Linked DNA regions of Homo sapiens. The protein of the gene in region 3 purifies or fractionates together with the protein of the main gene of each other region. This does not show direct contact. Each region holds a gene or a part of one and is shown on either strand. Other genes may lie near its edges.

What was found.
Region 1: the proteins of MBIP (region 3) and OSGEP purify together in Homo sapiens (co-immunoprecipitation; 3 studies listed by BioGRID and IntAct, with this or other methods). This does not show direct contact.
Region 2: the proteins of MBIP (region 3) and STXBP4 purify together in Homo sapiens (affinity purification with mass spectrometry; 3 studies listed by BioGRID and IntAct, with this or other methods). This does not show direct contact.
Region 4: the proteins of MBIP (region 3) and GMCL1 purify together in Homo sapiens (affinity purification with mass spectrometry; 3 studies listed by BioGRID and IntAct, with this or other methods). This does not show direct contact.
Region 5: the proteins of MBIP (region 3) and PHLDB3 purify together in Homo sapiens (affinity purification with mass spectrometry; 3 studies listed by BioGRID and IntAct, with this or other methods). This does not show direct contact.
Region 6: the proteins of MBIP (region 3) and ZNF131 purify together in Homo sapiens (affinity purification with mass spectrometry; 3 studies listed by BioGRID and IntAct, with this or other methods). This does not show direct contact.
Region 7: the proteins of MBIP (region 3) and TPRKB purify together in Homo sapiens (affinity purification with mass spectrometry; 4 studies listed by BioGRID and IntAct, with this or other methods). This does not show direct contact.

What each region holds. Positions count from the first base shown.
Region 1 is NC_000014.9:20,445,888-20,448,864, reverse strand, and holds the end of OSGEP (tRNA N6-adenosine threonylcarbamoyltransferase), read left to right. Parts: intron 1-53; coding exon 54-132; intron 133-693; coding exon 694-759; intron 760-870; coding exon 871-961; intron 962-1,174; coding exon 1,175-1,250; intron 1,251-1,344; coding exon 1,345-1,443; intron 1,444-1,585; coding exon 1,586-1,625; 3' UTR 1,626-2,464; downstream 2,465-2,977. UniProt on the Homo sapiens protein: Component of the EKC/KEOPS complex that is required for the formation of a threonylcarbamoyl group on adenosine at position 37 (t(6)A37) in tRNAs that read codons beginning with adenine.
Region 2 is NC_000017.11:55,167,760-55,170,964, reverse strand, and holds part of STXBP4 (syntaxin-binding protein 4), read right to left. Parts: 3' UTR 1-3,205. UniProt on the Homo sapiens protein: Plays a role in the translocation of transport vesicles from the cytoplasm to the plasma membrane. Inhibits the translocation of SLC2A4 from intracellular vesicles to the plasma membrane by STX4A binding and preventing the interaction between STX4A and VAMP2.
Region 3 is NC_000014.9:36,298,061-36,300,868, reverse strand, and holds the end of MBIP (MAP3K12-binding inhibitory protein 1), read left to right. Parts: intron 1-45; coding exon 46-84; intron 85-1,678; coding exon 1,679-1,786; 3' UTR 1,787-2,305; downstream 2,306-2,808. UniProt on the Homo sapiens protein: Inhibits the MAP3K12 activity to induce the activation of the JNK/SAPK pathway. Component of the ATAC complex, a complex with histone acetyltransferase activity on histones H3 and H4.
Region 4 is NC_000002.12:69,843,154-69,846,674, forward strand, and holds part of GMCL1 (germ cell-less protein-like 1), read left to right. Parts: coding exon 1-108; intron 109-977; coding exon 978-1,043; intron 1,044-1,431; exon of another isoform or gene 1,432-1,714; intron 1,715-3,521. UniProt on the Homo sapiens protein: Possible function in spermatogenesis. Enhances the degradation of MDM2 and increases the amount of p53 probably by modulating the nucleocytoplasmic transport.
Region 5 is NC_000019.10:43,477,665-43,480,757, reverse strand, and holds part of PHLDB3 (pleckstrin homology-like domain family B member 3), read left to right. Parts: intron 1-1,164; coding exon 1,165-1,381; intron 1,382-2,625; coding exon 2,626-2,711; intron 2,712-3,093.
Region 6 is NC_000005.10:43,137,914-43,141,413, forward strand, and holds part of ZNF131 (zinc finger protein 131), read left to right. Parts: intron 1-1,251; coding exon 1,252-1,396; intron 1,397-3,500. UniProt on the Homo sapiens protein: Plays a role during development and organogenesis as well as in the function of the adult central nervous system. May be involved in transcriptional regulation as a repressor of ESR1/ER-alpha signaling.
Region 7 is NC_000002.12:73,729,366-73,731,873, reverse strand, and holds the end of TPRKB (EKC/KEOPS complex subunit TPRKB), read left to right. Parts: intron 1-1,137; coding exon 1,138-1,314; intron 1,315-1,844; coding exon 1,845-1,931; 3' UTR 1,932-2,001; downstream 2,002-2,508. UniProt on the Homo sapiens protein: Component of the EKC/KEOPS complex that is required for the formation of a threonylcarbamoyl group on adenosine at position 37 (t(6)A37) in tRNAs that read codons beginning with adenine.

The DNA.
Region 1 (2,977 bases), about 16 Mb from region 3:
TGAGAAGCCAGCTGACTGTAGGCTTAGTGCCTCGTACGCTTATTCCCACATAGAGGCAAGAAGCTAGTTGAGCTGCCATACACTGTAAAGGGGATGGACGTCTCATTCTCAGGGATCCTGTCTTTCATTGAGGTGAGTGTGAGAGGTGATGAGACGGGCACTTTCATGCTTTTTAAATGAAGCATATCTGTTTTACTTACGATTATATTTCGTATAGCTCAGTATATTCATGTAGCACAGTACTGGTCCATATCATGTGCTGGGTAAATTCATTTAGAAGGTATTCATTGAATATCTCTGTGTGCCACATGCTGTTCTAGATAGTAGAGATGCAGCATGGAGCAAAACAAAAATCCCTGTCTACATGGAGCTTAGATTCTAAATGGGGGGCGGGGGAGATAAGAAAGAGGAAAATAATGAAGTGCCAGATGATGATGAGTACAGGTGAAAAATTAAGCAGGATAAGTAAGGGGTGAGAGATGTCAGGACAAGTATTCAAAAAGTAATGATTGCATCTTAAATGAAAGCTGCTCATTCTATGCCATGATGCCAGTGAAGGGAATGTGGTACAGGATGTGCTGGTAACTTGAATTGTGGTGAAACATGATGACCCTCCGAATGCATTAATTTTTGCTCTCGTGTAATCCCAAAACCATGATTTGTTGATTCTTTTGTTTTTCCCTTTAATTGTAGGATGTAGCCCATCGGATGCTGGCCACAGGCGAGTGTACTCCTGAGGATCTGTGTTTCTCCCTGCAGGTAATGCAGTAAAAAACTGGGACAGAAAGTTGGGGCTGAAGGTTTTATATTGTAGAGCAGAACTAATCTGGGATGCCCCTCTAATATTTTCTCCTTATCTGTCCCTGACAGGAAACTGTGTTTGCAATGCTGGTAGAGATCACAGAGCGAGCCATGGCACATTGTGGCTCCCAGGAGGCCCTCATTGTGGGAGGAGTGGGGTGTATGTATTATTGAAAAGTGTTCCTCTTTCCTATTCTTAACACTATGCGTCTTCCTCCTGGTACTCTAAATCATTAAGCGTTTGGAGTAGGCTTCCCAATCCTTGCCCCTAATCCCCTATGTCATTGTTCTAAGTGAGTGCACATGACGTGTTCTGCTGGACCATGAAGAGATGGCTAAAACTAAGCTAATCCTGTTCCCTGCCTCTTTGTAGGTAATGTGAGGCTACAGGAGATGATGGCAACAATGTGCCAGGAACGTGGAGCCCGGCTTTTTGCTACAGATGAGAGGTAAAGACACTTTCCCTTTGGTTTCTTTTTTACTTCTCCTGTTATAGTGATTTTCCACCCTTAGATCCCAATTTTCATCTCTCTTGCATCCCAGATTCTGTATTGACAATGGAGCGATGATAGCCCAGGCTGGCTGGGAGATGTTTCGGGCTGGACACAGGACCCCACTCAGTGATTCTGGGGTTACACAGAGGTGAGTGATTCACCTCTTGGTGAGGGTAGATTATTGGGACATAGACAAAAACAGCAGGGAAGAGTCCAGGAACATGAGGGCAGAGAAGAATGAAGGATGTTAAGGGCTCGCTCTCCACCATGTTTCTTCTGTTTTTCCACAGGTATCGGACAGATGAAGTAGAGGTGACCTGGAGGGACTAATAAGATCAACAGAATCAGAGTAGATAGTTCCTTAATCGGAACCCAAAGGACCCCGTGCCTCAATCTCTATCCTGATGTCATGGGAGTCCTAGCAAAGCTATAGACTCCAAGCAAGGCTTGGGGTCCTTTATGGAACCCCAGGATGACTCAGCAATAAAATATTTTTGGTTTTTTGGTTTTGTATGTTGGTGATTGGATTGTGTTGTTCAGGACCAATGTAGATTTGGTGCTGGATAAATTCTTGTTGGAGCTTGCTGCTGTGGAACCAAGAATGAGGTATCTTTTTTTTTTTTTTTAAGAAACGGAATCTTGCTGTGTTTCCCAGGCTGGTCTCGAACTGGGCTCAAGCAGTCTTACCACCTCAGCCTCCTGAGTAAGGATGCCATTGTGCCTGGCAACAATAGTAGTATCATAACTATTATTATAGCATCGGGTCCCGTGCTAACTGCTTTACATTCATTCTCTCATTTAAATTCTTTGAAGTAGGTGTGCAAGACTTCTCTCAAAATAGCCTGGAGGCTCACACCTGTTATCCCAGTGCTGTGGGAGGCCAAGTCAGGAGGATCCCTTGAGCCCAGGAGTTTGAGCCCAGCCTGGGCAAATAGCAAGACACCATCTATTTGAAAAATGTAAAAATTATCTGGGCATGGTGGCGCACATCTGTAGTCCCAGCTCCAAGGGAGGCTGAGGCGGGAAGATAGCTTGAGCCCAGGAGTTTGAGGTTGCAGTGAGCTGTGATTGAGCCACTGCATTCCAGCCTGAGTGACAGAACAAAACCTTGTCTCTTAAAAACAAACAAACAAACAGCCTGGAGATTGGTCTAACTTGTAACTCTAAAACTGCCTCTACTCCGTATACTTTCTCCTACATGCACATCCATCGGCAGGCTTGAGGAATGCCCGCAGATGCACATCCCTCCGTACCACAAACAACAGAACGAATCTCATACCCTTAATCTTATTGATGTTGATATCAATCATCACAATTAGTCCTAAACTACTGAGTCATCTCATCTTTTACACTTAATAACCATGTATCTCCACTCTGTTTTGTCTCCATCTACCTACCTTTTCCAACTCTAGAAGCTCTTCCACTGTGCCCTCTGGAACTGATGGCCAGTCATTTGTCAAATTCTCTGTGTCCTCAACCTCTTCTCTGAACGTTCCCTTCACATTTATGCTCTTCAGACTTGGTTTCTTATGAGGACTCTGCTTCTCCTACCACCTCAGTAGTGGTGGCATTTTCCCTTCCACACCCAGTGTCCCACTGGGCCTGGAGGTGGTGCACGTGTCCTCATACTGTTTCCAGACCATTATCCCTCATCCCTAGTACCCTTCTGCTTTGAAAGAAAC
Region 2 (3,205 bases), on a different chromosome or scaffold from region 3:
TCCATAATCACAGAATTGGCCCCAGTCTTTCTCTGTCATGAAACTTGGCCCTCCCCAGACAATGAAAACATAAATATCACATCTGTGACAACTCTAGCATTTCTAGCAGGAAAAACAAATCCTGAAAAAGCATCAAATGCAGTGAATCTGACCACACAATGGTAAAATAGTTATTTCAATAAAGATTTTCATTTCAAAAAATGAATTTTTTTGTTGTTTCCACAATAATCAATTTAGTTATTGACAATGCAGGTCAGGCCTCATTCATGGCCATAACATAATCTCTGATCTTTCCAGTCCCTACAACACTACAAATTTTCACAGGATTATACATAGAATTCTAAAGCAAAATAATCCTAGAAAATATAAGTGGAAATAAAAATATATAATCAAATCAGATACACTTTTTTCATACACAATAAATCATTAGCATTTTTTCTTATAAAGGACAGGCTCACTGTAGAGTAGTATGCAGAAAAATATAATAAATAAAATAGATATCACAAATAATGTCATCTAATTTTTTTTCAGATCTTCTATGGTGTTTATATATACAATACTGTTGGTTTTATATTGTATACAGATCTGTTTCCTGTTATTACCACTTGATGTTATTATTGTGATACTTTCTTGGTATCATTAAACATTAGTAAACATTTTCTATCATGTTAGATACCATATTTTATTTAGACATTCCCCTGTTTTCAGGAATTTAGGCAATCATTTCTATTTTAAATCATGCTTTAATAAGCCTTTTAAGCATTTTTTTATTTTGGTCTAAACTTGGGGTCATTTGTGAGGATAAATTCACAGAAGAAGAAATTTTTAAGGCCTTTGATAGATGTTCCAAGACTGCTTTCCAGAATGTTTGTGGTGATTTATAGATGTCCTAAGAATATTTGAGGATATCTATGTCATGTACCTGCACTAACATAATTACTGTGTTTTAAAAATACTTTGGTTTTATTGTATCTTAAATAATTAATCAATAATTCTAAGGAAGCCTTATATCATAGGTGAGAAGGTTTGTTTGAAATTGGCAAGGAGCAAGGTACATGAGGGAGTTTGCATTGTCCACAGCCTTAAAGGTTCACTTCACACAGTAAATACTACAAAATTATCTGTCTTGGATTGTTTAGACATTCAATTGCTTGAATGTCCAGGGACAAACCACTTGATCTCTTCTAAGTATTTCATGTTAGGGTTTTTAGAAATAGCTTTTAACACAATTTTGATTGAAATAATTTTTCAGAAAGCCCATTTCACTTGTTAAGGCATTTCATCTTTAGCTGAATTTTAAGTATGCTATGAGATAAACCAGGAACAAGGAGACTTGATTCTCTATACCATATTTTATCGATTCTAAGACACACATTTTTCACATCTAAGCGTCTTTAGTATTTGGATGTATAATAGGCACTGCTAGCACTTTCAGATCCCTCTACCACTCTCATGCATGACAGCTCCCTGTGCTTTCACTCTCAACATTCAGCACCTGCACCTCTTTGTTGGACGGCTGTCCTCAGGCTACAGGAACATGCTTTGACTGCATTGCAGGCTGGAAGCACCTGGAAATTTACACCCACCCCCACCCCCACCCCCATTCAATAACTGATGGTGCAGAGGTATAAATACTCTGGGTTCTCTGGCCTCTGACTTGAACCTACTGTAGAACCTTTTTGTCTCTAGGGCTCTCCCGTGGGAGTGAACCAAAGTCATCTCCAGAATAGGCTTTGCTTGACATCACACTTTTTGTGGGTTTTTTTCCCCCTTTCCTTTGGATCGGTTCTATTTCTCTATTTCCCTATTACTTTTCACCCTTGGGCCACTTCCTAATTCACATAAATCCTTATGTCAGAGGAATTAAACATATTACAGGAAGTGTCTTACAATAATTGATGTCCTGCAGTTACTGTCAGCCAGGTGGTCATAGTGATATGGTTGTCTTTGCCTGTGCATGCATGAATTTGGTTGTTCTTTCCATGATATGACTGGACTGTTACTTCTTTACTTTTTGGTCAATAAACCATTTAAGGACTATTGAGAAGAGTATGAATCCTGATTGTTATCTAAAATTTTTCTATTAAGTCCTTTTGCCAAGATAAAAAATGTGCCAGCATCAGAGTTGTAGAATGGATGTCTAAGACAGGGAAAAAAATCTCAGAGACTGCAGTAGAATATTCCTTTAAGAAATGTTATTTATCCTGATGGCAGAGAGGGTGTTACCGTGAAAAATTGTGGTTTATGACAACTCTGATTCAAAAAAGAGATGCAGAAAGAGTTCAATTCTGAATGTACAGAGCTTTGTAAATATCATAATTAATATTTCATTCTCTTTTACACACATGATTTTTAAAAATCTATGCTGAAACAGTTCTCTTGTATTTACTTAAAGGCGTATAAGATAAAAATTCTAACTACTAAGTCATATTTTAAATCTTTTTTTCATTTTCAGTTACACACAAAATAATGATGGGTCTTATAACTGATGAAATACTAATTGGGAATATGGTACTTATAGAGACAGAAGAAATACAATCAATGAACAGTCTTAATTGGAAAAACTAAGGTAACTTCATAGACTTCTCACTTTCCATTTGTAGAGAGAGTTCTACTGGTAAATGAGGAACCACCAGTATTTGGTCATATTTTTGAAATTGTGTAGATTTTATTAAATATTTCTTATTCCTCCAATACGTGTGTGTGTGTGTGTGTGTGGTGTGTATATACACACAGATATATATATATACACACACACACACACACATATACTAAGTGTATGTGTGTGTATGTATGCATTCTATTTCCTTCAAATTTCCCTTATATCGAGTACTTTTATCAGAGAAGTAATCCATGCATTTAATTTGGTGCCAACTTCTTATTTTTGTGTGGTAATCACCAAAGAAAAATAAAAGCTGGCATTAGATTAAATGCATAGATTACTTCTCTGAATGATAAAACTGCCTAAAGAAATAGAATCTGCTCATAAACATCTTTTCATATTCCATTCCACAGAAATTTCTGACCTTACCTGTCTATATTACCTATTCCTATAAGGTAACTTTATTATCTACTCAATTTGTTTTGTCTTCCTGTTGTCTCTTCTCGTGTGTGCTGATGAAAGATGAATTTCTCCACTGTGAAACAGAACAGTCAAGCAATTCCAGTGGGGTTACTTATAGATGAGATAATTTCTGCAATTTCA
Region 3 (2,808 bases):
GATGCTTAGATTTTTCTAAACATTACCTTTTTTTTTTTAATCTAGAGCTTTTCTGGAAAAAGAAGAAAAGTTCAACCACCTCAAGTAAGTTACTGCATTTTCATTTTGGTTTCTGAAATAGTTTGATTAGTTTTATACCTTTCTTATTAATAAAAGTTTCTACTATGGTTGCTTTTAGGTCATACCCTGGTAAAATTTAGGACTGAAGAAAAGGGCAGTATAAACTAATACAGTTGAATAGAAAAATTATTTTAAGGGCATGGAATGACTCAGATAGGTTAAATAAATAAAACCTTTGTCCTGCTTTTAGTAGTACAAGGATGTGTCATTCACAAAGTGCTTAAAAATAGTAAGTGCTCAAGTAATTTCAGTCTCCCCCCATCCCTTCCTTTTGTGAACACTTCTAATTAGCAGCACCTAGATCAAAAAGGGTGTTTGGCAGAGTTTGACTTCAGCCAGCCCTGTCTAAAGTGCTACTTTACTAATTAGTTGAACCTTAAATAGTAAGGCTTTGCTAGAATTTAACAGTGGTAATGTGAATTTAAAGTTGGAGAAAACTTTCTGATTTTTAAGAGTAGCATATTTTTTTCTTGTAAAATTCTGAGTAAGTTTTTTGATAGCAGCTATTTTTTCCCGAAGTAAATTATTATAGTTGATCCCTCAAGAGAGAATTTCTAAGTATTTTAAGCAGCTATTTTTAAAGTTAACTAACTTTTTTTACTATTGATTATGAGAATAATCAGGTTTTTAAAAGTTATTCTCTTATGTAGTAAACTGTAACACTTCGTTGCTGCTTTAAAAATACAATTCACATAACATAAAATTCATCATTTTAAAGTGGCTATTAGTATATTCACTATGTTGTGCAACCATCACCACTAAGTCTAGAACATTTCCATCACTGCCCCCCCAAAACCCTGTATCTATTAGCACTCAGTCCCAATTTCCCCTTCTCTTTACCCCCTAATAGCCACTACATAATACTTGTGTCTAAATTAGAAATATTAATATATAAGTGAGGGTGTTCACATAGGTAGACTTGAATAAATCCAATTTTTATTGGAAGGTAAAAGAAGTATTTTCTTCACTATTTTCCACTTCAGGTTAACTTTAGTAATCAACATAGAAAGTTTTCCATTAAAAGGGATAGTTGATGTCTCAAATGATTTTTTTCTCCTGGTAGTAGTATAATTAGCATTTTTCTTCTTCTTTCCAACTTTTACTTAAGCTCAAGGGTTTTTCAGCTTTGTTACATGGGTAAATTGCATGTCATGGGGGTTTGGTGTACAGATAATTTTGTCACCCAGGCAATCAGCATAATACCCAATAGGCAGTTTTTCAGTCCTCTCCCTCCTCCCATCTTCAAATAGGCTCCAGTGTCTAATAATCAGGCTTTTTTTTTTTTTTTAACTTATTCTTTCTAAGTATAAAAGGTTCAGGAGAGCTTAGTCATTAGAAAAGAGAAAAAGAAATATTTAAGCCTTGTTATTTTATGCCTTTAAATTTATGATATAGTCAACATATATAGTTGCTCAGTTTTAAGATTATTCTCATGAGGGAAAAAAACCATTTGATCATGCTTTTGAATATTTTAAATATTTATAGTTCATTTGGCACTTTATCTGCATTAAGATACTTCAGAATCTTATTCAGCAATTTGTGTCGTTATTGTTTACAGCAGAACTATTCACTGGCTGAACTTGATGAGAAAATTAGTGCCCTCAAACAAGCCCTCCTCAGAAAATCAAGAGAAGCAGAATCCATGGCAACCCACCACCTTCCATGAAAAACTCCTCTCATCCTTGTCATTTTACTTTTTTGTATACATATGTGTAACTTACACTGTTATTAATTCAACGGATATATATTTATCAATGTAGACTTCTCTGTGAAGTCAAGGTTTATTTTCACATGAGTCCAGCTTGCAGCAAGTAATCTTCAAATATTCCAGTAAGTTTTGAAATAATGAATGCATTGAAAATAGCATTGTTGGAATTTATTCCCTTCTGTTTTAAAGGAGGTATTTTGGAAATTGAAAAACTTAATTTACAAGTGCTGGTACATCTTTTTTCTTTTGTGGACCACAGGAAGGAAGATTTATTTTGATATTGATACTTTAAAAGGACTTTATATTTGTAACATTGATGTTAACCAGTTTATTAGTTTAAATCAGTACTTTGCATATAATAAGCATTCAACAAAAATTTATTGACTGAAATGAATTTTAAATGCATGTGTATGAACTTGTTTTTCTTAATCTTTAAGATGTCAGTATTCATGTAAATAAACAATAGATCCAGCTTTATCCCTTTGACGGTGTGACTTTGATCAATTTACTTAATCTGTCTTTGTTCTTATTTCCCAGTCTGTGAAATGGGAATGACAATAGTAGAGACTACCTTATTGATTGTTACGAAGAAGAGGTGAGATCTTGCATGTTTGAAACTGTCTGTCCCAAGGGAATTGCTCAGTAGATGTTAGCTAATATTATAAAACCAGGTCTGTTTTTGGACAGCAATTAGGATATTACAAAGAAATTATAGTACCTCTCTTTTGAGAGCCTCCCCTTTACAATACCCCAGTTACATTAGGCAGTACATACATTACCACAGTTATAAATTAAACATTTGAAAGATGCAGCTACAGTTATGTGGAAATTCTTTCATGGAGCAGTTGTTCAGGTCAATAATTGTTTGGTGGTTCACTCCTGTAATCTCAGCACTTTGGGAGGCTGAGGTAGGAGGATCACTTGACCCCAGAAGGTCAAGGCTGCAGTGATGCACTGTATTCCAGCCTGGGTGACAGAGT
Region 4 (3,521 bases), on a different chromosome or scaffold from region 3:
TTTAATACAGCAGTGTGGTGAGACAATGAAGGAAACAGTTAATGTGAAAACTGTATGTGGCTATTACACATCAGCAGGGACCTATGGATTAGATTCTGTAAAGAAAAAGTGAGTTGCCTTTCTTGTTTTTCTTCCTATCCCACTTTTAGGAATTTGGTTGCTTTAGTTTCTTAAGAGAATGTATAGCTATAAGAAAGAAAGAATTAAGGAAAAATAGGATAGGGGGATGGAATTTTATTAAATAAAAAGCCCCTTTTAACTTTTGGACTAATTAGTAAATTCCTCAAAAGTGTCGTCTTTGTAAGTGACCATAGGTGGGTTATATACATGCTTATAAAAACCATGGTCACCTTGGTCGGGTGTGGTGGCTAACACCTGTAATCCCAGTGGTTTGGGAGGCCAAGGCAGAAAGATCACTTGGGCCCAGGAGATTAAGACCAGCCTGAGCAATGTAGGGAGACCCCATCTCTACAAAAAATTTTAAAAATTAGCCAGGCATGGTGGCATGCACCTGTGGTCCCCACTATTCTGGAGGCTGAGGTCAGAGGATTCTTTGAGCCCAGGAGGTTCAAGACTGCAATGAGCCGTGATCATGCCACTGCACTTTATAGTATATTTTCTATTAAAATTGTTTAAGAAGTAGGCCTGATAGACTGACAGTCCTTCTAACTCTTGAGAGTTGCAGTACCTGTTTTGAGATTTTAAAGAAGGTTATACTAGTATGCAGACCCCTTAATAAACTATTTAACACAAACTCAAAATGAAGTTTTAAAACTGGAAATGCTCTCGTTAATATAAAGGAAATATTCTCTTAATAATATCCACTGACAAAAATAATACTAAATTTCCTATTGTTAAGCTAAAAGTTTTGAGCATGTTCTGGCAAGATTAATCTGATTTTATTTTAACTATAAGTCCTACTTAATAAATTGTAAATACATGGCATATAATGTAATAATTATATATTTTAATTTCAGGTGCCTTGAATGGCTTCTAAACAATTTGATGACTCACCAGAATGTTGAACTTTTTAAAGAACTCAGGTATTTGAATTTCAAGTAACTTCATAATTAGTCATCCTAAAATATTGTTTATCATTTGTTAAAGTACATAACATTTTTGTAGAACACAAAAATATATTATGAAAAAGCAAACAATTTAATGAAAGGGCTTGACTACATCCATAAACTGAAGAAATGCTGTGCAAACTTATTTCTTTGTTGTGAATAATATAATGGATATTATGTCTACTGTTTTAACCGAAAAATGCATTACTGTTATAAGACTATAGAAAAGTTTCAGGTTTTGCCAGGCTGTTAGAGAATTTAAAAGTTATATTTTAAAAATCATCTTTTTTATTGAGAAATAAGTTTGAAGAAACTGTTTTGGCCTTTTTTTTTTTTTTTTTTTACCTTCAAAAACTTTTCATGTTGATCCGTTTTCTCACTAGGATGAATTCTCTGATGTGGAGTAACAAATGTGTGTCTCCTATAAATGTATATTTTTCCATCTCTGATTATTTCACACCTTGAATCCAAATCTGTAGTCCCAGCTACTCTGGAGGCTGAGGCAGGAGGATTGCTTAAGCCATAGAGGTCAAGGTTGCAGTGAGCTGTGATTGCGACACTGCTCTCCAGCCTCAGTGAGAGTGAGACAAGTTACCATGGTTCTTCACCGTCACCTCCTGGTACAAGGTCTTCTGAACCAGGTCAAGGTATTCCCACTCCTGATGAGAGAAGTCTGTGGCCATGTCCCTGAATGTTACAAATTCACAGGCCATGGTTTTAGACAAGCAAAAGCCAATCAGTCCTCAGGGTTTCTCTACCAGAAAAGCGATTTGGGAAAACCTAGACCTATAATCCCAGCACTTTGGGAGGCCAAGGTGGGAGGATTGCTTGAATCTAGGAGTTCGAGATCATCCTGGGCAACATAGTGACATCCCCTCTCTTTGAGAAAATATCAATCTTCCTTTAAAAAAAACCTGTTAGCGCCACACAGGGTCCCATGCAGGCTTCAGGCTGGGGCTGCAGAGGCTCCTGCAGTCAACTGCGCCGCCTTCGTCCTCAAGCGGGACCTGGTCAGACGCAGCACAGCGCAGAGCCAGAGGTCCTGGAGATGGAGCCAGAGGTCCAAGATTTCTCCATCACCTGTGGACTATGTAGTCCAAGCTGGAATAATAGGACCGCAGTCACCCGTGAGAAATGGATTCCAGGGTTCTAAAAACCTACAAGAAATATGGCGGTGACAATGAGGACTGCCCACCCTGCCCACCACCCAAGCTGCAGAGCAGCCTTTCTTTTTTAAAGAGATGGGGGCCTTGGTATGTTGCCCAGGCTAGACTCAAACTCCTGAGCTCAAGCAGTCCTCCTGCCTCAGCCTCCAAGTAGCAGGGATTATAGGCACATACCACTGCACCCAGCTTAGTTTGGCTTTTTGGATTAAGTACGCATATTATCCATTTATTCCTGCAGCAAGTACTTCCTGACTGTCCTTTATATGTAAAGATACTCTATTAGGGGCTGTGAAGAATGCAGAGATGATTTTGTCATGGTCTCTTGCTGTCAAAGAGCTTATTTGTAGTAATGGGACTAAGATATTTGTGATGGGTCTGAGAAAATCTGGCTAGCAGTTAACTTTTGAAGGCTGGTTGGCATTACAGTCATTTTCTGGCTTGCATTTCCCTGACAGCAGTGCTTCTGAGACAAGGATACAAATGTGTCCGAGAGTATGTGACATTCTGATGGAAATGTACAAAACCAAAGTCAAACATTACATAGCTTCCCAGAATGTGAATTTTACTGATTTTTTTTTTTTTTTTGGTGGGGAGGAGGTGGGGAAGAGGTAAATATTTTTATGTTTAAATACATTATGGAATAGAGGGAATTCAAATTTCCTTGAACTCTCAAGATACAATTTATAGAAATGTTACTTTTTATGGTTAGACCACCTCCTAGATTATGGGGTTTTTTTCCTTTCTTTTGCCTTTACGAGATAATTTGGTAGAGAAGTGTGAGAGACTTTCATCACCTGGTGATGTCAAGGCATAAATAAATCACCGTAGAATGTTTGATTTGAAAATCGTTAGAAACACTTTAATACAGTCAACCCTGCTTATCCATGGGTTCTCCATTTGTGGATTCTACCAACTGCCGATTGAAAAGATTTGGGGGAAAAACTATAAAAAATAATAACAAAAAAACCCAATGTAGTATGACAACTATTGCATAACATTTACATTGTATTAGGTACTGTAAGAACACCTAGAGATGATTTAAAGTATATGAGAGGATGTGCATAGGTTACATGCAAATACTATGCCATTTTATATAAGGGACTTGAGCATAGAGGATTTTGGTATTTGTAGGAGGTTCTGAAACCAATCCCCCACAGATACAGGGGGATGACTCTAATTTCTCACTGAACTTTTTGAAAAAGGAGCAGGATCCTCTTAAAAACCCACGTGCTCTCTTGGCTTTTTATGGCTCAAAGGAAAGAAAGAACAAAGGAAAAGCAAAACAAAA
Region 5 (3,093 bases), on a different chromosome or scaffold from region 3:
TCTTGGTTTCCACATCTGTGAAACGGAGATAAATGTACTTACCCCTTCAGGAGAGTTTGAGGGGGCAGAGATTATACCTAGAAAGTACTTAGCAGAGGATTATATTCATTAATTTCATCACAACAATAATAATGTAAACAAGCTCTCTCTTTCTTTTTTATTTTTGAGACAGGGTCTCACTCAATCACCCAGGCTGGAGTGCAGTGGTGCAATCATAGCTCAATGCAATTTCGATCTCCTGGGCTCAAGTGATCCTCCTGGGCTCAGCCTCCTTAGTAGCTGGAACTACAGGTGTGCAGCACTAGGCCCAGCTAATTTTTTGGATTTTTAGTAGAGATGGGGTCTCACTATATTGCCCAGGCTGGTCTCCAACTCATAGCCTCAAGTGATCCTCCCACTTCAGCTTCCCAAAGTGCTGAGATTACAGGCATGAGCCACTGCACATAGCTTCTCTTCTCTCTCTCCTTTTTTTTTTTTTTTTTTTTTTTTTTTTAAATAGAGAAGGGGTCTTCTGTGTTGCCCAGGCTGGTTTCCAACTTCTGGGATCAAGGGATCCTCCCACCGCAGCCTCCTGAGTAGCTGGAATTACAGGCTTAAGCCACCACACAGGCTCCAATCTTCATTTCTTTTTTCCAAAAAAAATTTTTTTTTTTCAGAGACAGGATCTCACTATGTTGCCCAGGCTGCCCTTGAATTCTTAGGCCTAAGGGATCCTCCTACCTCAGCCTCCCAAAGTTCTGAGATTACAGGCATAAGCCACCACACCCGGCCCGATCTTTATTTCTTTTGATAGGCCTCTGATGTTTCAGGGTGAGCTCTAGGGTCAGAAATACCTGGGTTCGTGTCCCAGTTCTGCTGCCTAGAAGCTCTGTGTGACCTCGGGTGCATTATGTCATCTCTCTGTACCTCATTTTGCTCATTTGTAAAATGGGGCTCACAGTTGCCATGAAGTGCCAAGGAGCTGATGTCCATAAAGTCCTGGGCAGAGCATCACAGTCAATCCACGTAGCCGTTGCATTTGTCAGATGGTCCTAGTTAATATTACCCTCTAAAGGCTGTAGCGGGCCTTACATGCAAGCTGCTATGACTTGCTCCCCTCGAGGGGCTCCAGGCTGTAGAATCCCCCGCCCCTTACATCAGCTGCCCCGTCTCTTTGCTCCCCAGGCCCCACCCACCCCACCCCACCCTCCAGGCCCGCGAATCTTGGATCTCCGGCAGCATCTGGAGGGATGGGGCCACAACCCGGAAAACTGCCCACATGTGCAGGTGTCTGGGTGCTGCTGCCGTGGACCCCTGGTGAAGATGGGCGGCCGCATCAAGACCTGGAGGAAGCGATGGTTCTGCTTTGACCGCCAAGCCCGCCGCTTGGCCTACTATGCGGGTAAGCCCAGCCTGGCCACCATGGGCCCCAGGACGCTGGAATTCCACTCCGGAGGCCTTTCCTCTACAGGCACCAGAAGTCCTGGCCCCCACTTTCCATGTTCCCCAGGATCCAGAAGTTTGGTTCCCTAGCTCCTAACTTCCCTACAACCCAGGAGTCCAGGCTCCCAGCTCTCTCTCTCCTCCAGACCCTGGAATCCAGATCCCCAGCCCCTCTTTAAGCCACCCAGAATTCAAACCCCCAGTCCTCCTCAGGGACATAGATAACAGTTTAGTACAATTCAAGCTTCCCAGGGCCCATGTTCCTAAGACACCCATGAGTCTGAACCTGCACTGTCAGCTGCCCCCAGCCCCCCAATGGCCAGGAGTCTGGGGCCCTTGTCCTTCTTCTCTAGGAGAATCAATTATTCCAAACCTCTCCTTGGACACTTTTTTTTGTTTTTGTTTTTGTTTTTGTTTTTTGGAGACAGAGTCTTGCTCTGTCGCCCAGGCTGGAGTGCAGTGGTGCGATCTCAGCCCACTGCAACCTCCACCTCCCCGGCTCAAGCGATTCTCCTGCCTCAGCCTCCTGAATAGGCGGGACTACAGGCTCATGCCACCACACCTGGCTAATTTTTTGTATTTTTAGTAGAGACAGGGTTTCACTGTGTTAGCCAGGATGGTCTCGATCTCCTGACCTTGTGATCTGCCTGCCTCAGCCTCCTAAAGTGCTGGGATTACAGGCTTGAGCCACTGCACCCAGCCTCCTTGGACGCTTGTATTGTCTCAAATCCTTCTTCCCTAACCTGTATGACCATTTGACTCTACTTGGTGAGTCCTGGCTCTGTCAGCTCTGGCTGTGTGACTTGTGCTGGGTGCCTTAACTTCTCTGAGTCTTGGTTTCCACATCTGTCAGATGGAGATAAATGTACTTACCCCTCCAGGAGAGTTTGAGAGGGTTAGAGATTATACCTAGAAAGCACTTGAGCACTCCCTGAGTTCCTTCCCTTCTCAGAGGCCGAGCATTCAGGGCCTAGGATTCCAGCTCCACAGACCCCACTCCCCAATCATGTCCAGTTTCTGTGCCCAGTCTCCCATCCAGCGTTAACATTCACTCACCTCCCAACCTTTAGAGACCTTCAGACTCTTGTCACCATGTTTCTTACCCAAATCCAGTCTCAGGACTTAGGGCCAATGACCCTCACCTCGACACACACAGACACACCTTTCTCACTGGCTCTCTTTTTCTCTTACCTCCCCTACCAGACAAGGAAGAGACCAAGCTCAAAGGTGTCATCTACTTCCAGGCCATTGAGGAAGTCTATTATGACCACTTACGCTGTGCCTTCAAGGTGAAGCCCCTCAATGTCACCCTGACCTCCCAGTTGGAGACTCAGTTGGAGTCAGGCCTTATCTCATCCCTGGCTCATCCTGGGGAAAGCCACCCGCAGCTTCTCCTGTCAGGGTACTCATAGGAGTACGTGTTTGTCGCAGAGAAAACAAACAGGTCACCTGACTGCAGGGACTAAAAATTAAGAGCCCAGACTCTGGCCTTCAGCCACTGTTAATTTTCTTCTTTTTTTTTTTTTTTAAGACAGAGTCTCATTCTGTCGCCCAGGCCTGAGTACAGTGGCGCCATCTCGGCTCACTGCAACCTCCGCCTCCCTGGTTCAAGCAATTCTCCTGCCTCAGCCTCCTGAGTAGCTGGGATTACAGGCACCGTGCCCGGCTAAT
Region 6 (3,500 bases), on a different chromosome or scaffold from region 3:
TATGCAACCACATGGATGAACCTTGAGGACATTATGCTAAGTGAAGTAAGCCAGTCACAGACATAAACTGCATATTTCTATTTATATGAGGAATCTAAAATAGTCACTTCCACTCATATGAGCTATCTCAAATAGATTGAAAGAGTGGAATACGGGTTGCTAGGGGCTGGGAGGGAGGAGGAAATGGGCAGTTACTAATCAGTGGGCATAAAGTTTCAATTGCGCAAGATGAATAAACTGGAGGTCTGTACAACATTGTACCTAGAGTCAACAATAGTGTACACTTAAAAATGTGTTAAGTGGGTAGATCTCATGTTCTTATTACAATAAATGTTAAAAGGTTTCATTGAACATGTGACATTAGAGTTGGACCTTTAAGGGGTGGGTGGTAGGATGAGTATAACCAGAGATGAAATGATTAAGCATCCAACTAGGAGGGTGTTAATAAAGGCAAGTCAGGCTGGGTGCGGTGGCTCACGCCTGTAATCCCAGCACTTTGGGAGGCTGATCGGGCAGATCACTTGAGGTCGGGAGTTTGAGACCAGCCTGACCAACATGGGGAAACCCCATCTCTACTAAAAATTCAAAATTAGCCAGGCGTGGTGGTACATGCCTGTAATCCCAGCAGCTCGGGAGGTTGAGACAGGAGAATCTCTTGAATCTGGGAGGCAGAGGTTGTGAGCCAAGATCACTGTATTGCACTCCAGCCTGGGCAACAAGAGTGAAACTCCATCTCAAAATAAATAAATAAAGGCAAGTCAGCTATTAGAAAGTGCAGGGTTTGTTTGAGAAATAGTATATAGTGTGTGTGTGATGTCGTTTAAAATTTGGAAAGGTAAATAGGAAAATAATGTGAAGGGCCTTGAAATAAAGTCAGAGAGGTACTAAATTTTGTTTGCTAAGTTGTGAAAAGCTATTGAAGATTTTGGAGCTGAGTTGGCACAGCTGTAATCTCCCTGGCAAGAAATGTAGCATGTCTGACATGTAATAGCCAATTCATATATTTGAGTGATAGAATCTTACTGTTCTCCAAGAGCCTCAGGAAATTTAAAGTAGTTTAAGATTTTCCAGCTAGGTAGTGCTGAAATTTGGCTGTAATATTATTGTATTGCTAATGAGAATTTTTCCAGAAAATAGTTTTCAAAAATAAATACTCAACAAGCTCCAAGCCCTGGGCTTTTCTTTCTTTACTAAACATTGTAAGATTTGAGTCAATATGATTACATGCTCTAATGTACATCTTCTTTACAGGTGTTAGTAAAATGGCCTTTCGCCATTTAATTGAGTTCACATATACAGCAAAATTAATGATACAAGGAGAAGAAGAAGCCAATGATGTATGGAAAGCAGCAGAGTTTCTACAAATGCTAGAAGCTATCAAAGCCCTTGAAGTCAGGTACTTAATTTCTTTAATGGGGTTCAGATAGTCATATTCAGTCATGTTCATTCTGTTAGTGAAGAACTTACAGTATGTGTCATGCCATGAAGAACAGAGTTCTTCAGAAGAATTAAGAATATTTAAGGATCTATTAAAAAATTTTCTGGATACTGATTGTTCTTTCACTTGACTTTGATTTTCTGATCATGTGTTAAAACTGCTAATATTAAAGTAGCATCTTTGGTATGTAATAAAATAAATCTAGACAGCTTTTTAAGGATCTGGATCCTTATAAACTGTTTTGTTGGATTCAAGTTATTGTTTATACCAAGCCTTATCCTACAAAGGGTTTGGCTTACAAAGATTAACATAATACTGTTTAAAAATAAGGAAATAGATGGAAATAAATAAATTGGTTTAATAAGGAGATAATCATTTCAAGTTAGAAGTATGATAGCCAAAAATGCATACCATAAGTCTATAGTAGATGTGCTAAATCTAGCTCTAAGTGCACCTAGTTCAAAGAAAAAGACTATTCAGTTACATTATTCCTTGTTAGAAGATGAGAACAAATCAATTGCTGAGGAGCCATTCCTATTCCTAGTATTAAAATTTCTCCTGAGAAGTATTAAGAAAACATTAGGCCAGGCCCAGTGGATTACGCCTGTAATCCCAGCACTTTGGAAGGCTGAGGTGGATGGATAGCTTATGCCCAGGAGTTCACAAACAGCCTGGGCAACATGGTGAAACCCTGTCTCTACAAAAAATACAAAAATTAGCTGGGCATGGTAGTGCATGCCTGTGGTCCCAGCTACTCAGGAGCTGAGGTGGGAGGGGAGGATCACCTGAGCCTGGCAAGGTTGTGGCTGCAGCGAGCTGTGATCACGCCACTGACTGCATACCAGCTAGGGGGAACAAAGTGAGACCCTGTTTTTTTAAAAAAGAGAAAACGTGAAAGGATATAATGAACAAAGACCTCAACATCCTTACTTGATGAATAATGGCAGTGTAACATAGTTACTAAGAATAAGAGCTCAGGAGTCAGTTTCCCTGGGTTAACATCCTGCTTCTACCACTGTGTGGCCTTAATTAAGTTACTTAACCCTCCTGTCAGCTGTGTCCTCCTCTGTCAAATGAGAGTAATAACGGTACTTTCTACATGGGATTTGATTGTGAGGGTTGAATGAATTAATGCATGCAAAGTGTTTAGCATGGTGTCTGGCTAAATGACTCTGAGTACTCTAAGTATGAACTATTATCTCCTGGTACTGTTTTTTATGTTTCTCAATACAGATCATTGGCCTGATGCCAAAACAGTTTGGTAAAATCAGTTTCACATAGCGGCACAATGATTTAATCTTAACTCACTGTTGTGGTTTAGTTAAAAGATAAAATTTATTTCTCTGAGGACTCTACTGGAATTTTATTTTATTTTATTTTTTTGAGATGGAGTCTTGCTCTGTCTCCCAGACTGGAGTGCAGTGGCACAATCTCGGCTCACTGCAACCTCCATCTCCTGGGTTCAAGCAATTCTCCCTGTCTCAGCCTCCTGAGTAGCTGGGATTACAGGTGCCTGCCACCATGCCCAGCAAATTTTCGTATTTTTAGTAGAGGTGGGGATTTCGCCATGTTGCCCAGGCTGGTCTCAAACTCCCAACCTTAAGTGATCCGCCTGTCTCAGCCTCCCAAAGTGCTGGGATTACAGGTGTGAGCCACTGTGACTGGCCGAATAAAAGTTTTTTTTTAAGAGATAAAAATTTAGATAACTCTAAGAATACTGAACTGTACTCGTCCATAAATATCATCTCTTAGTTTGACAGTTCAAGATTAAACCTTTCTGACAAGAGCTTGATACGTATATATATTCTTTGATGCTTAGCACCTGGCATATAGCAGGTGTACAGGAAACATTTGTGAATAGATAGATGGATACATGCTAATTAAAACCAGATCAGTACTCTTGCAGAGAGACCTGAGCATGGATGTCAAAATAGAGATGCATTCTGAGGATATAAACCTGATCAGGCCATCTCTTCTCAAAAAGATTAAAGGAAATATATATGGATGGGGCGATGTCAGATTGTGGTTAAATATTGAATGAGAGCCTTCCAAAAGAATGTTC
Region 7 (2,508 bases), on a different chromosome or scaffold from region 3:
CTAAATGATAAAACATTAGGCGTGGATATTTTGTGTGCTAGCCTGCATATCATTCTCTCTTCCCGTAAACTCCTTGAGGGTGGGATCCATGTCTTTTTCATATACCAGGAACTTGCTTGTACCTATAACAGTCCTTAACACAGCCTCACTCACACACCCAGTACATAGGTAGAGTTTGTGGTTTGAAATACTTATAGTAATGCTTTTTCAATGAAAGTTATCAAGCTAAAGACATCACACATGTAGCACATGAAAAAAATGACTGCAATTTTGCTGATGAAGTTTTAGTATTACTGCTGCTGTTAATAACAACCAGGTACTAATGTCATCTACAGGAAACCTGTAGCATAGGTTAAAATACAGATGATTGACAAGTTTATAAAATGCAGTTATCTCAGCATGGTAATAGAGATTCCCAGTACCTGGAATAAAATTTACTAATTATGGTTTCCTTGAGATCATTAGACATAATTCAGAAAACTCTTGAATTCAGTAAACATCTGTTGAACTTTTTCCCCGTTCCATTTACAGTTCTAGGGGCAGAAGAGGCAAATATGTTCCTGAGGAGAGGCAGATAAACAAGACAAGTTAAAATGCCCTAAGATAAATGATATAATGGGAAAATGAATTCAAATCTAGGGGTACAGCAATGAAGCCATTCATTTTGGAGGGAGGAGGGTGTGGTGGGGAGTGGCATCAGAACTGTGGACCCTGAAGCATGTGTTCAGCAGCCAAGCCATGAGGAGAAGGGACATGCGAGCAGAGGACAAAGCTTGAGCACAGGCAGAAGGGCATGAAATGTGACTGGATCCCCAGGCAGGCTGGACTGGCCAGAAGGCAGAAGCGCCTGGCTGGAGGGCCACTTGGCACCAGAGGGAGGAGGTGTTTTTGTGCAGCGCCAAGAGGCTGGGCTTGATTCCATAGGAACAAGGCGTACCTTTAAGCAGGGAGTGCTTTTGAGGAAGTGCCAATGGATGTTGGAAAGGAATCATTAAAGTGAAAAAGTAGGCAGTGAGAACTGTTAGGACATGAAAAATAAGAGCCTGACCAAGGAAGAAGGCAGATCAGGAAATGTTTCAGACGTAGGAAACAATGGTTAATGATCTTGTGTTTTTTTTTTCATTTTTTTTCTCTTAGATTTCAGAGGCTTTGAAAAAATTTGGTATCTCAGCAAATGACACTTCAATTCTAATTGTTTACATTGAAGAGGGAGAAAAACAAATAAATCAAGAATACCTAATATCTCAAGTAGAAGGTCATCAGGTTTCTCTGAAAAATCTTCCTGAAATAATGAATATTACAGAAGTCAAAAAGGTTTGCCAGTCCATATTTTTAGAAAGAGTGTGATAGATGAGCAATAATGCTGATGCCGTTTGCCTATTGATCACCAGAGCTCCTTGTTTTTTGAACTTTTGAGAAAGTTAATCTAATTTTAAAAATTACTTAAAAATTACAGATACAAAGAACTGGGAGGTGTGATGGTTTATGTAAAATATAATTACAAACTCAGCTGACATAACCATTCTCCACATTAAGAAAGAGAATACCTTTAAATATCAAACTTACATAGTATATTTAAAATGTAAAATAAATTTAGTATGCTTTTAAAATGGATAGAAATTTGGTTTTTATGTTCTTGAGAGTTACTCCCATAGCAGCAATTTAAAGGGGATACAAGTAATGAATTGCCCTCTACTTTGAATATTTTAATCACATTTGTTGTTTGTTATACCATGAACCCAATAATTGAATGAGGAATAATTTCACTTACACATGTTTGTATAATGACAATTAGTAGTGAATGACGATATCAGCAAGTCATAATTTGTCTTTCATTTTTACAGATATATAAACTCTCTTCACAAGAAGAAAGTATTGGGACATTATTGGATGCTATCATTTGTAGAATGTCAACAAAAGATGTTTTATGAAATGTCAGAAATATTAACAAAAATTCTCAGCATTAAAGAAAACATTGATTTTCCTTTCCTGACTATAAAACTAATTGTGCATTATAGAAAAGTTTAAATCACAGAATGGTATTAAAAAAAAAAAAAAAAGGCCAGGCACGGTGGCTCACGCCTGAAATCCCAGCAATTTGGGAGGCCAAGGCAGGTGGATCACCTGAGGTCAGGAGTTCAAGACCAGCCTGGCTAACATGGTGAAACCCCATCTCTACTAAAATACAAAAATTAGCTGGGCATGATGGCAGGTGCCTGTAATCCCAGCTATTCGGGAGGCTGAGACAGGAGAATCGCATGAACCTGGGAGGCACAGGTTGCAGTGAGCTGAGATCGTGCCATAGCACTCCAGCCTGGGCAGCTGAGCGAGACTCCGTCTCAAAAAAAAAAACCAAAAAAAAAAAAAACAAAAAAACCACTTGTAGTCCTACCTCGTTGTATTTTAAAAGATAATCAGTTACTATTACTTGTTATTGCCTTCTAGAGTTCTGTTTCTATTCAAATATATTTTATTTTTATATAATTAGAATAAAAATTGCAAACACTT